2 separate regions of the Homo sapiens genome follow, and region 2 is linked to region 1. Evidence: fine-mapped expression QTL. A gene starts in region 1. The other region holds a variant in brackets. All regions are shown on one strand. Distances are from middle to middle. Region 1 holds the start of GOLPH3 (golgi phosphoprotein 3). Region 2 has its middle 27 kb from the start of GOLPH3.

What was found. PIP is the estimated chance that this variant, and not a neighbour inherited with it, causes the effect.
Region 2: its variant is the best candidate, but not a certain one, in a credible set for the expression of GOLPH3 in whole blood (INTERVAL, PIP 0.54).

What each region holds. Positions count from the first base shown.
Region 1 is chr5:32,171,844-32,176,843 of GRCh38, forward strand. GOLPH3 (golgi phosphoprotein 3) reads right to left here and starts at 2,476. Exons shown (of 4, transcript NM_022130.4): 1 at 1,967-2,476. The coding sequence starts at 2,191. RefSeq lists a silencer at 1,760-2,369.
Region 2 is chr5:32,198,709-32,204,231 of GRCh38, forward strand. No RefSeq gene overlaps it. Among named protein-coding and RNA genes, the nearest start is that of GOLPH3, 27 kb to the left of the region's middle. The variant CA/C (reference allele first, on the strand shown) is at 2,401.

The sequences.
Region 1 (5,000 bases):
AGGCTGAGGCAGGAGAATCGCTTGAACCCGGGAGGGGGAGGTTGCAGTGAGCCCAGATGGCGCCACTGCACTCCAGGCCTGGGCGACAGAGCGAGATTCCGTCTAAAAAAAGAAAAAAAAAAAGACAAATGTTTATAATCAAGATTTCCAATTTTGAAACCTAAAGTTGAATATTTTCTAAAAATTACATTACTAGGACGCTATACCCCTAGTTTACTTTTTCATCCAAAGAACAAGGAACTGCACATACAGCCTGCTTTATCATCACAACTCAATAATTAAACAGGTACAGCAGCCCTTTCACAGCCAGAGGAACATCAACTTTTTTCAAGGTTACTGTTATTAAAACCTGAGAAATGGGAAACCAAGATATGGCAAATGCCCCAGACGTATCTATCAAGCTAACCGTTAGTTCATTAGATTTCTAAATAAGAAAGGTCCATAAACGGTCCATATAAAACTCGCCTATATCTAGTAAGTTTCAGTGACCAAGAAAGATTACGTTGTTTTGTAAGACTTTTTTTTTTTTTTTGCCCACCTTCCTGAATTTGGAAAACTTTCTTAAAATCAGGCCTGGGCGCGGTGGCTCAAGCTTGTAATTTCAGCACTTTGGGAGGCCGAGGCAGGCGGATCACTAGGTCAAGAGATCGAGACCATCCTGGCCAACATGGTGAAACCCCGTCTCTACTAAAGGTATGAAAATTAGCTGGGCATGGCGGCGCACGTCTGTAGTCCCGGCTACTCGGGAGGCTGAGGCAGGAAAATCGCTTGAACCCGGGAGGCGGAGTTTGCAGTGAGTGGAGATCGCGCCACTGCACTCCAGCCTGGGCGACAAACTGAGGCTCCGTCTCAAAAACAAAACAAAACAAAAACACAAAATTAGCCGGGCATGGTGGCGCATGCCTGCCTCAGGAGGCTGAGGCAGGAGAATCGCTTGAACCCGGGAGGCGGAGATTTCGGTAAGCCGAGATCGCGGCATTGCACTCCAGCCTGGGCAACAAGAGCGAAACTCCGTCTCCACATAAATAAATAATCATTTTTGTAGGCAAATATAACAAATACAGCAAAACGTCATAGAATCTAGAAAGAGTATATATGCATATGTATCTATCACTTTTTCAACTTTTCTGTGTGTGAAAATTTTGGACACTGAAGTGAAAATAAACGCTTTCAAAGTCAGAATACAAAGAATTATCTATTGCAACTTCAACCCACCTGAAGCTTTGAGGCCTCTGATCAACTCACAAACCTACATTTCAAGCACTCGATGAAAAAGCCCTTTCTTAAGACGGCAAGACTTTGAGATTCATCAACTGATAAAATATAAAAGCGATACTAAAAATAATCTCTCACCTAATGTAAGTTCACCTAGAAAGTCATTTACCAGGAGGTTTCATGAGAAACTTAACTTAACTTTACTCAGTAAAAGAGCTTTTCCCTCTATTACCACTTCGCCTACGTTTTTCGTAATTCCCAACAGTAAGCTTTAACTGAAGAAGAAGAAAAAAAAAACATCCCCAGCAAGCAGATCCGGGCACCCCTCCCAGGTCCTAAAGCCTGCAAAAACCCAAAGAGTTCGTGGCGCTGGTGGCTCCAGCTGTTAGTTTCCCGGGCAGTCTCCGGGTTGGATTTGCACCCTGGGGTCTACACGGGTTAAAAACGCGGAAAAAAGGCGACGAAGAAATACAAACTGCCAGGGTGTCGAAATGAAAGGAGCGACTGTGAAAGGGGTAAGGAAAAATCCAAGCCATCTCTACGGGGAGGATCCAGAAAGCACCAGCCGCGCCAGGGGGTCAACCAACTCCGACACCGCTCGGCGTCAGCTGGGCGCCACCAGGCGCGGACTTCGGAGCGAGGGCAGGTGCGCGGGCCGGAAGCCTCGGGCGCTCACCTGGCACCTACCTGGAGCTCACCTGGCGCCCGGGCCCCGCGCCGCCGCCCCCCGCCCAGCCCGCCGCGCCCGCACCTCGCGGTCCTTGAGGCCCAGCAGGAGCACTTCCTCCATCAGGGTCAGCCGCGTTTCCTTGGAGTCGCCCTTGTCGTCGTCGTCCTGCTCGTCGCGGCGGCTCTGCGCGTCGTCCTCGCTGCTGCCGGCGCCGCCGCCCGCCGCCCGCTCCTTGTCGGCGGCGTTGCGGGAGGCCTCGGTGCGCCGCTGCACCAGGCCGGAGCTGCGCTGGGTCAGCGAGGTCATGGCTCCCGCCGAGGCGCCGAGCCGGGCCGAGAGGGTCGCAGGACCGACCGGGTCGCCCTCCTCCTCCCCGCGCGGCCTCCGATCCGGGTTTCCGTGTTAAATCCGGACGCCGGGGCGACGTCCGTCGGCAGCAGGGCCGGGGGCAGTCATGAGGAAACAGGTCAGGGCGAAGCGGGCTGGCCGGGCGTCGGCGGGGCAGGAGAGGAGCGCCTTCCTGCCTGTGGCCGCAGTCCCCGAAACACCCCGAGCTCCAAGGCGGAGGCGGCGGCGGCGCCTTTCCAATATGGCGGCCCCGGCTGACGTCACCGGAGGATGTGGCAGAGTCGGCGCGGGAGAGCTGGGCCGGGAGGCGCCGGAAGCGGCGGCCGGGGATCCGCTGCCACTGCAGCCTACACCCTTCCCGGCCCTCGGTGCTTGTCTTTTCTTTGGCGTTCCTGCGCCCCCTGACCCGCGGTCCTGCAGTCCTGCTCCCGTGACGTGCCCTCCCTCCTTCCGTTCCCCGTTTCCCCTTCACTACCCAGGGCTGGAGCCTGAACCTGGCGGGGCCCCCCGTGAATGGAAGAGCCTGGGCCACGCGAAGGTGGACCCCACTCAGCCTCCAGCCGTGCCCTCCACGCCCCAGACACCGCCGTCTTCGGAGGCGACTCCGCGGTCGTGTGGACGGGGTCCCATTTGGACTCCGGGGTCTGCAGGATCGGCAGGAAGGACTTTGCTCTCTGCTGCTGGGCGGGGAGGGGTACGCTATCTGCCGGGACTCCCTAACCCTTTAGAAGGAGCAAGTGCGTCCAAATGGTTTGAAAGTGGACCTTTATTGTTTTCCAGGAGTAAGAAGATAGAACAGTTGACCAGTTTTGTTTGTAAAACTTCTTTCCTTGCCTCGGACTTGTGCTATAAAGTGACCAGGGCGTAGTGAGTACAGTTAGTACCGCACACGTTAGCACGCTCGACCTTAACGATCTTTTTATAGAGACAATAAACCTGCAGCGTTTCATGCCACGTCTTTGTACGCATCGGATGTCTCTCCGTGTAGTTACTAGGTGAAATCCTCTTGGCGTGCGCAAATTAGGTTAAAAAAATAGCTGTCAAACCTGAGACAGGAGTTGGAGGAGTAGAGGGTGGCGCTTGTTAAGTGAAACATTTAACCAGGAATGGTATTGTGTGCCATCCTGTATTAAACAATGTATGGACAGAGTGGAACAACAGCAAAGCAAAAAATAAAAATTTTTTAAAAAAAGTGATCATGGGCTGTGGCTAAAGAGTGCTTTAGATGGATTCTTCTCTTCCACAAATCCATTATCCAGAACTGCTGCTGCCTACCATCCCATGCCCTGGAAAGTGACAGTGCTAAATGAAGGGAAGAGAGGGTCCAGGGGGCACACCAAGTAGACCTTCCCTTTTTCCCACCTGTCTTGGTGAAGGTCGATTTCACCTCAACCAATTTCTCCCATTCACACCCTCTTTTTTTTTTTTTTTTTTTTTTTTTTGAGACGGAGTCTTGCTCTGTTGCCCAGGCTGGGGTGCAGTGGCACAATCTCGGCTCACTGCAAGCTCTGCCTCCCGGGTTCACGCCATTCTCCTGCCTCAGCCTCCTGAGTAGCTGGACTACAGGCGCCCGCCACCACGCCTGGCTAATTTTTTGTATTTTTAGTGGAGACGGGGTTTCACCGTGTTAGCCAGGATGGTCTCGATCACCTGACCTCGTGATCCGCCGGCCTTGGCCTCCCAAAGTGCTGGGATTACAGGCGTGAGCCACCGCGCCAGCCCACACCCTCTTTGGACCTTTTTTCTTCATCTTTTCTGATTTTACCAAATGTTGTAGCTTGAAATATTTCTTTGTAAAATAAATGTAATTAATTTATTATGTGAAAAAAGTTAATCAGGAGTAGTGGCCCACATCTGTAGTCCCAGGTCTTCGGGAGGCTGAGGCAGGAGAACCGCTTGAGCCCAGAATTTGAGGCTGCCATGAGGGTGATCGTGCCACTGCACACCAGCCTGAGAGACAGAGCAAGACCCTGTCTCAAAAAAAAAAAAAAAAAATTGGCTGGGCGCGTTGGCTCACGCCTGTAATCCTAGCACTTTGGAAGGCCAAGGCGGACGGATCAGGAGGTCAGGAGATCGAGACCATCCTGGCTAACACGGTGAAACCCCGTCTCTACTAAAAATACAAAAAATTAGCCGGGCGTGGTGGCGGGCCCCTGTAGTCCCAGCTACTCGGGAGGCTGAGGCAGGAGAATGGCGTGAACCCCGGAGGCGGAGCTTGCAGTGAGCAGAGATTGCGCCACTGCACTCCAGCCTGGGTGACAGAGCGAGACTCCGTCTCAAAAAAAAAAAAAAATTACTTGACTAATATAGTCAAGTATGTAGTTCAAAGAGTACAAAGATATGTGTAGTGAAAATCTCCCTCCCAGCTCTGCCCCTGTTCACCCAGTTGTTCTCCTTTCTCTCCTGAAGGTTTTAATGCCAACAAATCCTCTGATACTCCTCCCCTCAAAATGTGAAGCCTAATTTCCCTCCCCCTGAGTGTGGGCCAGACTTAGTGACTCTCTTGAAATGAATAGAATGTGGCCAACATGACTGTGTGGCACTTCTCAGGTCATGAAAGTCTATGCAGCTTTTTTCCTCCCCAGCTGCCCTCCACCCCCAGCCATCATGATGGGTGGGGGTGGAGGGCAGCTGGGGAAGAAGTGAGGGAGGAAGGAAGGAGATATTTTAAAAACAGGAAGAGGAAGAAAGGATATTTTAGGAAGGAAAAAAGAAGGAATTTTAGGAATGAGAATATTCCTAATTACAACAATGAGTGTTACTTTTT
Region 2 (5,523 bases), 27 kb after region 1:
CTGGGACTACAAGCATGCGCTACCATGCCCGGCTAATGTTTTTTGTATTTTTAGTAGACACGGGGGTTTCACCATGTTGGCCAGGCTGGTTTTGAACTCCTGAGCTCAGGCAATCCACCCGCCTCAGCCTCCCAAAATACTAGGATTACAGGCGTGAGCCACCACGCCCAGACAAAAAGTTTCTTTTCAATGGTGGTTTGTGTGTTCATTGACAGGCATCTTTCAGATTGCCTAACTTCAAAAATAAAAGAATGTTTTTGGTTTGCAATAGAAAAATAAGCCTATAAAGGCTATTAGAATTTGAACTAAGAGTTGAACCTTAAGACAGGGATGATATGAAATTACGATCTAGAAAGATGAGATTGAAGAGATCAGTTCTTTGGCTGATGGGATTTAAATGACTGAAATAGACAAGATGAAGTACCAGTGTCCAGCCCCCGTGGTCTCTCCACTGTGCTATTTCATCAGGAGTAAAGTAGGGAGAGTAACAAAGTGGCGTGATGGAAGCAGGGAGGTCCCTCCATCTTTCATTTCTGAAACTTATTACCATCCTTTACTTCCCTCCCTGTCCCCTTCCATGAAACATGCTCATAACACTCCACAATTATCACTTTTGTTTTTCTCCTACCCCAGGTAAATTATTTCCATGGAAGTAGCTCAGTTATGTGCGTGTGTGTGTGTGTGTGTGTGTTTACAGGTGGTTATTAGGACTTACAATTCTACCAGTGGTATAGAGAGTTTTAGTTGCTCGCCATTCTTTTTTTTTTTTTTTTTTTTTTTTGAGAAGGAGTCTCACTCTGTCGCCAGGCTGGAGTGCAGGGGCACGATCTCGGCTCACTGCAACCTCTGCCTCCTAGGTTCAAGCAATTCTCCTTCCTCAGCCTCCCAAGTAGCTGGGATTACAGGCACCCGCCACCAGGCCCGGCTAATTTTTGTATATTTAGTAGAGATAGGGTTTCACCGTTTTGGCCAGGCTGGTCTCGAACTCCTGACCTCAGGTGATCCGCCCGCCTTGGCCTCCCAAAGTGCTGGGATTACAGGTGTGAGCCACCGCGCCCAGCCGTTGCTCTCCATTCTTGCCGACAACTGGTATTGCTGGCTAAACATGTTTTACATATTTGTGTAAATATATAAAATATGTGGAGTGTTATGAGCATGTTTCATGGAAACATGAAGGCACTGTCTCATTGTGGTTTTAATTTTCATTTCCTTGATGATTAATAATGTTGAGCACATTTTCTTTGCTTATAAATATGCATACATTTTTAACCCAGCAATTACATTTCTGGGACTTTACCCAGAAGAAATACACACACACACACACACACACACACACACACACACACACAGAGAAACTGGGAATATCCAACAATTGTATTTTGGTGAAATATATTATTTTTGGTGCATTCATACTGGGAAGTATTACAGTTGCCTAATGATGACCATCACCATTAATATCTCAAGGTGGTTAACTCTAAGTGATAGAACAACAAGTGATTTTTAATATGTTCTTAGCTTTTATTTTCTGAATTTTTCATAGTGATTATATATTGCTTTTATATTCAGAAGAAATGGCAAGGGATACTTCTACTTTATTTTGGAACAAATGAAAAATACAATCTTAACCTGACAGAATACCAACAATTCAATCATGAGCAATGTTTTTTGGGGGTCAATGAGTTCCTCATTTAAAATGCAAGAGGTGTGCCCATGTCTTTCTAAGTCCTATTCTATCTTTAAAAAAAATTGGGACTCCTTGGAAGAATGGCTGGATACGGGGCTGGGGCAGGAAAAGCACAAGGTTAGCCAGGAACACAGGAACATTCTGATATGCCAGAAAGTAAGAAAGTGAGAAGGAAGGAAGGAAGAAGCAAGGAAGGGAGGGAGGGAGGGAGGGGAGGGGAGGGGAGTGGAGTTGGGAGGGGGGAAGGAGGGAAGGGGAGGGGAGGGGAGGAGAAGGAAGGGGAAGGGAAGGAAAATATCGGGACATGTCAAAAGGACAAGAGCTAGTTTGAAGGAGAAGGAGAGCCCGCTGGCCAAGTCTGGGATAATTTTGAGCTAAAAATAAATCAGGACAGTAAAGGATTACAACTTATTGAATAAAACATTAATCATCAGGCCAGGCGCGGTGACTCACACCTGTAATCCCAGCACTTTGGGAGGCCGAGGCGGGTGGATCACGAGGTCAGGAGTTCAAGACTAACCTGACCAGCACCGTGAAATCCCATCTCTGCTAAAAAAAATACAAAAAAATTAGCCGGGCGTGGTGACACATGCCTGTAATCCCAGCTACTTCGGAGGCTGAGGCAGAAGAATCGCTTGAACCCAGGAGGCAGAGGTTGCACTGAGCCGAGAACGCGCCACTGCACTCCAGCCTGGCAACAGAGCGAGACTCCGTCT[CA/C]AAAAAAAAAAAAAAAAATTAATCATCAATTCAGGCAGCTGATAAGTAGGTAAATAAATAGATGGAGGTAGTAAGGGAGGGCTTTCCTTATAGTGAGATGTACATTAGATTGATACATGTGGAGGGAGGGATGGAGTTGAAAAATCACTGTTTTGCTATCATCAAAGCAAAAAATTGGGCAAGAAATAGCATTGATTGCTAAATCTAGGGAGATAAAGTCTGATGAAAGACAGGATATTTAGTCAGTCCTAACGTGGCTCTCCACAGATTACTTATTAGTTGCAAAAGAAAAATAGTAACTTATCAGTGAAGAAACTGGACAATACTGGGATCAGGTGACTAAAATTAACCCAGGGACAGATTGACACACTGTGCCTCCAGGTACCCTGAAAAGAATATAACATCACTTTTTTCATAGTTTGGCAGGGGACCAAAAACCTGAATTAAGTCACGAGGAAACACCAGGCAAGCCCAACTGAAGAACATTCTATAAAACAACCGATTTGTGTTCTTTAAATATATCAATGTCATGAAAGAGAAAGAAATTCTGAAGAACCATTCCAGATTAAAGAAGATTAGAGAAACATGACCCCTTCAGGCATATATGTGATCCTTGGTTGAAACTTGGACTGGGGGGATGCTGTAAAGAACTTTATTGGTATAATTGACAAAATTGGAATATGGATTATAGAGTAGGTGAAAGTACGTATCAAGGTTAAATTTTCTGATTTGATAATTGTATTTGGATTATGTAAGAAACTATATTTGTTCTTAGGAACTACACATTGAAGTATTAAGAGTATAATAAAGGCATGATCTTTATAACCTCAAATGGTTTGGAAAAAATAAATACAGAGGGAGGGAAGAAGAGAGAATAATTAAACAAATGTGGCAAAATGTAAAAAAGTTGGTTAATCTGGACTGGGCGCGGTGGCTCATGCCTGTAATCCCAGCACTTTAGGAGGTCAATGCAGGTAGATCACGAGGTCAGGAGATTGAGACCATCCTGGCTAACATGGTGAAACCCCGTCTCTACTAAAAATACAAAAACAAAGTTAGCCAGGCGTGGTGGCGAGCACCTGTAGTCCCAGCTATTCGGGAGGCTGAGGTGAGAGAGTGGTGTGAACCCTTGAGGCAGAGCTTGCAGTGAGCGGAGATTGTGCCACTGCACTCCAGCCTGGGCGACAGAGCGAGACTCCATCTCAAAAAAAAAAAAAAAAAAAATTTGGTTAATCTGAATCATGGCTATATGAGAGTTCTCTATTATTTTTGCAACTTTTCTTTACGTTTGGAATTATTCAAAATCATGCCCGGCCTAAAATTTAATTTTTATTTGCTCCCAACCATTTGATTTTGCCCTCCAAAGAGCAGCTACACTTATGACTAAGACTTTTTGTTTTATTTCATGAACACCAATGTTAGTTCAAGAGAAATCATTCCAGTAGATGAGATCAGTTGTTGGGTGGAAATGTGTGTTTAGAAATACTGATGATACTTTAGGGAAATATCCACCCAGCATTGCACCAAGTCCACACATGGTCCAAATAGAACTAGGGAAGAAATCCTAATCTGAATTTTTTAACCTCTTATATAATGAACATTTCATGGTATAATTTATGGTTTTCCAACCACATTTCAGCTTGTATGACTAAGTAAAGCCTGCCAGTTTATTATCCAGAATACAAAGTTAGGTGTGCAAAAACATAATCTTGTGTGTCTATAATTAGACTTTATTTATTTATTTTTCTTTTTTTGAGATAGAGTCTGGCTCTGTCACCCAGGCTGGAGTGCAATGGCAAGATCTCGGCTTTGCAGCCTCCGCCTCCTGGGTTCAAGCAATTCTCCCACCTCAGCCTCCAGAGCAGTTGAGACTACAGGCACACTACACCATGCTCAGCTAATTTTTGTATTTTTAGTAGAGATGGGGTTTCACCATGTTGGCCAGGTTGGTCTCGAACTCCCAACCTCAAGTGATCCACCCGCCTCGGCCTCCTAAAGTGCTGGGATTATAGGCATGAGCCACCGCACCCAGCCTTTAATTTCTATCTAAAGCCTTCACTCTGCTTTTGTATGAAAACTTAATTTTAGTCAATTTGGGTGAAACTGTCAATTCAGGATGTTTTCAGTCATTTCCGGGTTTTCCCACTTCTTTCTAGCGTCCCATATAGGCTTTAAGGGGAGATCCTCTTAAACCATACTAAGACGTGGCATGAGAAAGGAGCTTTGTAGTGAATTCCTATAATTTTACTTTGCATTCATTTTGAACACAAGTGGACTTCCCCATACCAGAGGCAAGGTTTAGTCACCCTTGACACAGTTTCCCATTTTCTTTTTTTTTTTTGAGACAGAGGCTCGTTCTGTCACCCAGGCTGGAGTGCAGTGGCCTGATCTCAGGTCACTACAAGCTCTGCCTCCCGGGTTCATGCCATTCTCCTGCCTCAGCCTCCCAAGTAGCTGGTACTACAGGCGCCCACCACCATGCCCGGCTAACTTTTTTTGTATTTTTTAGTAGAGACAGGGTTTCACCGTGTTAGCCAGGATGGCCTCGATCTCCTGACCTCGTGATCTGCCCGCCTCGGCTTCCCAAAGTGCTGGGATTACAGGCGTGAGCCACTGCGCCCGGCCAGTTTCCCATTTTCTGCCTCTGCCCAGTTCCTCAATGCAATGGATCCAGATGTCTGCCTTATGCAACCACTACCTGGTGACCACTCCCTCCCAGGGACAACAGGATACAACCCACTTCATTGGTCCCACTGATCCCCGCACTGCACTTTGTACATATGCTGCAGTCCCATTGTGACTCCGGAGATCTGCCACCTGCTTGCTGTTAACCTGCCAGGTAGAACTCCCTGCAGGAAACTCACCTGAGGAACATCCTGGAGCCCAAACCCACAGGTTTCTCTGTCTGTCTATTGCTCCCCACTTGTTGATGGAGCGCACATGTCCCAAGATAGCACCCTCCTTCCATTAGCCCTGTGTGTGAGGCAGTCACCCGCTTCCCTCTGGGATCTGTAAGTCATAAACTACTTCTGTTATTTCATATGTTTCATTGAGATGTCGCTTTTACATCTCACCTAACTGCCACGCAGAACCCAGCTCCTTTCCCGGCCAGGGCTCTCCTA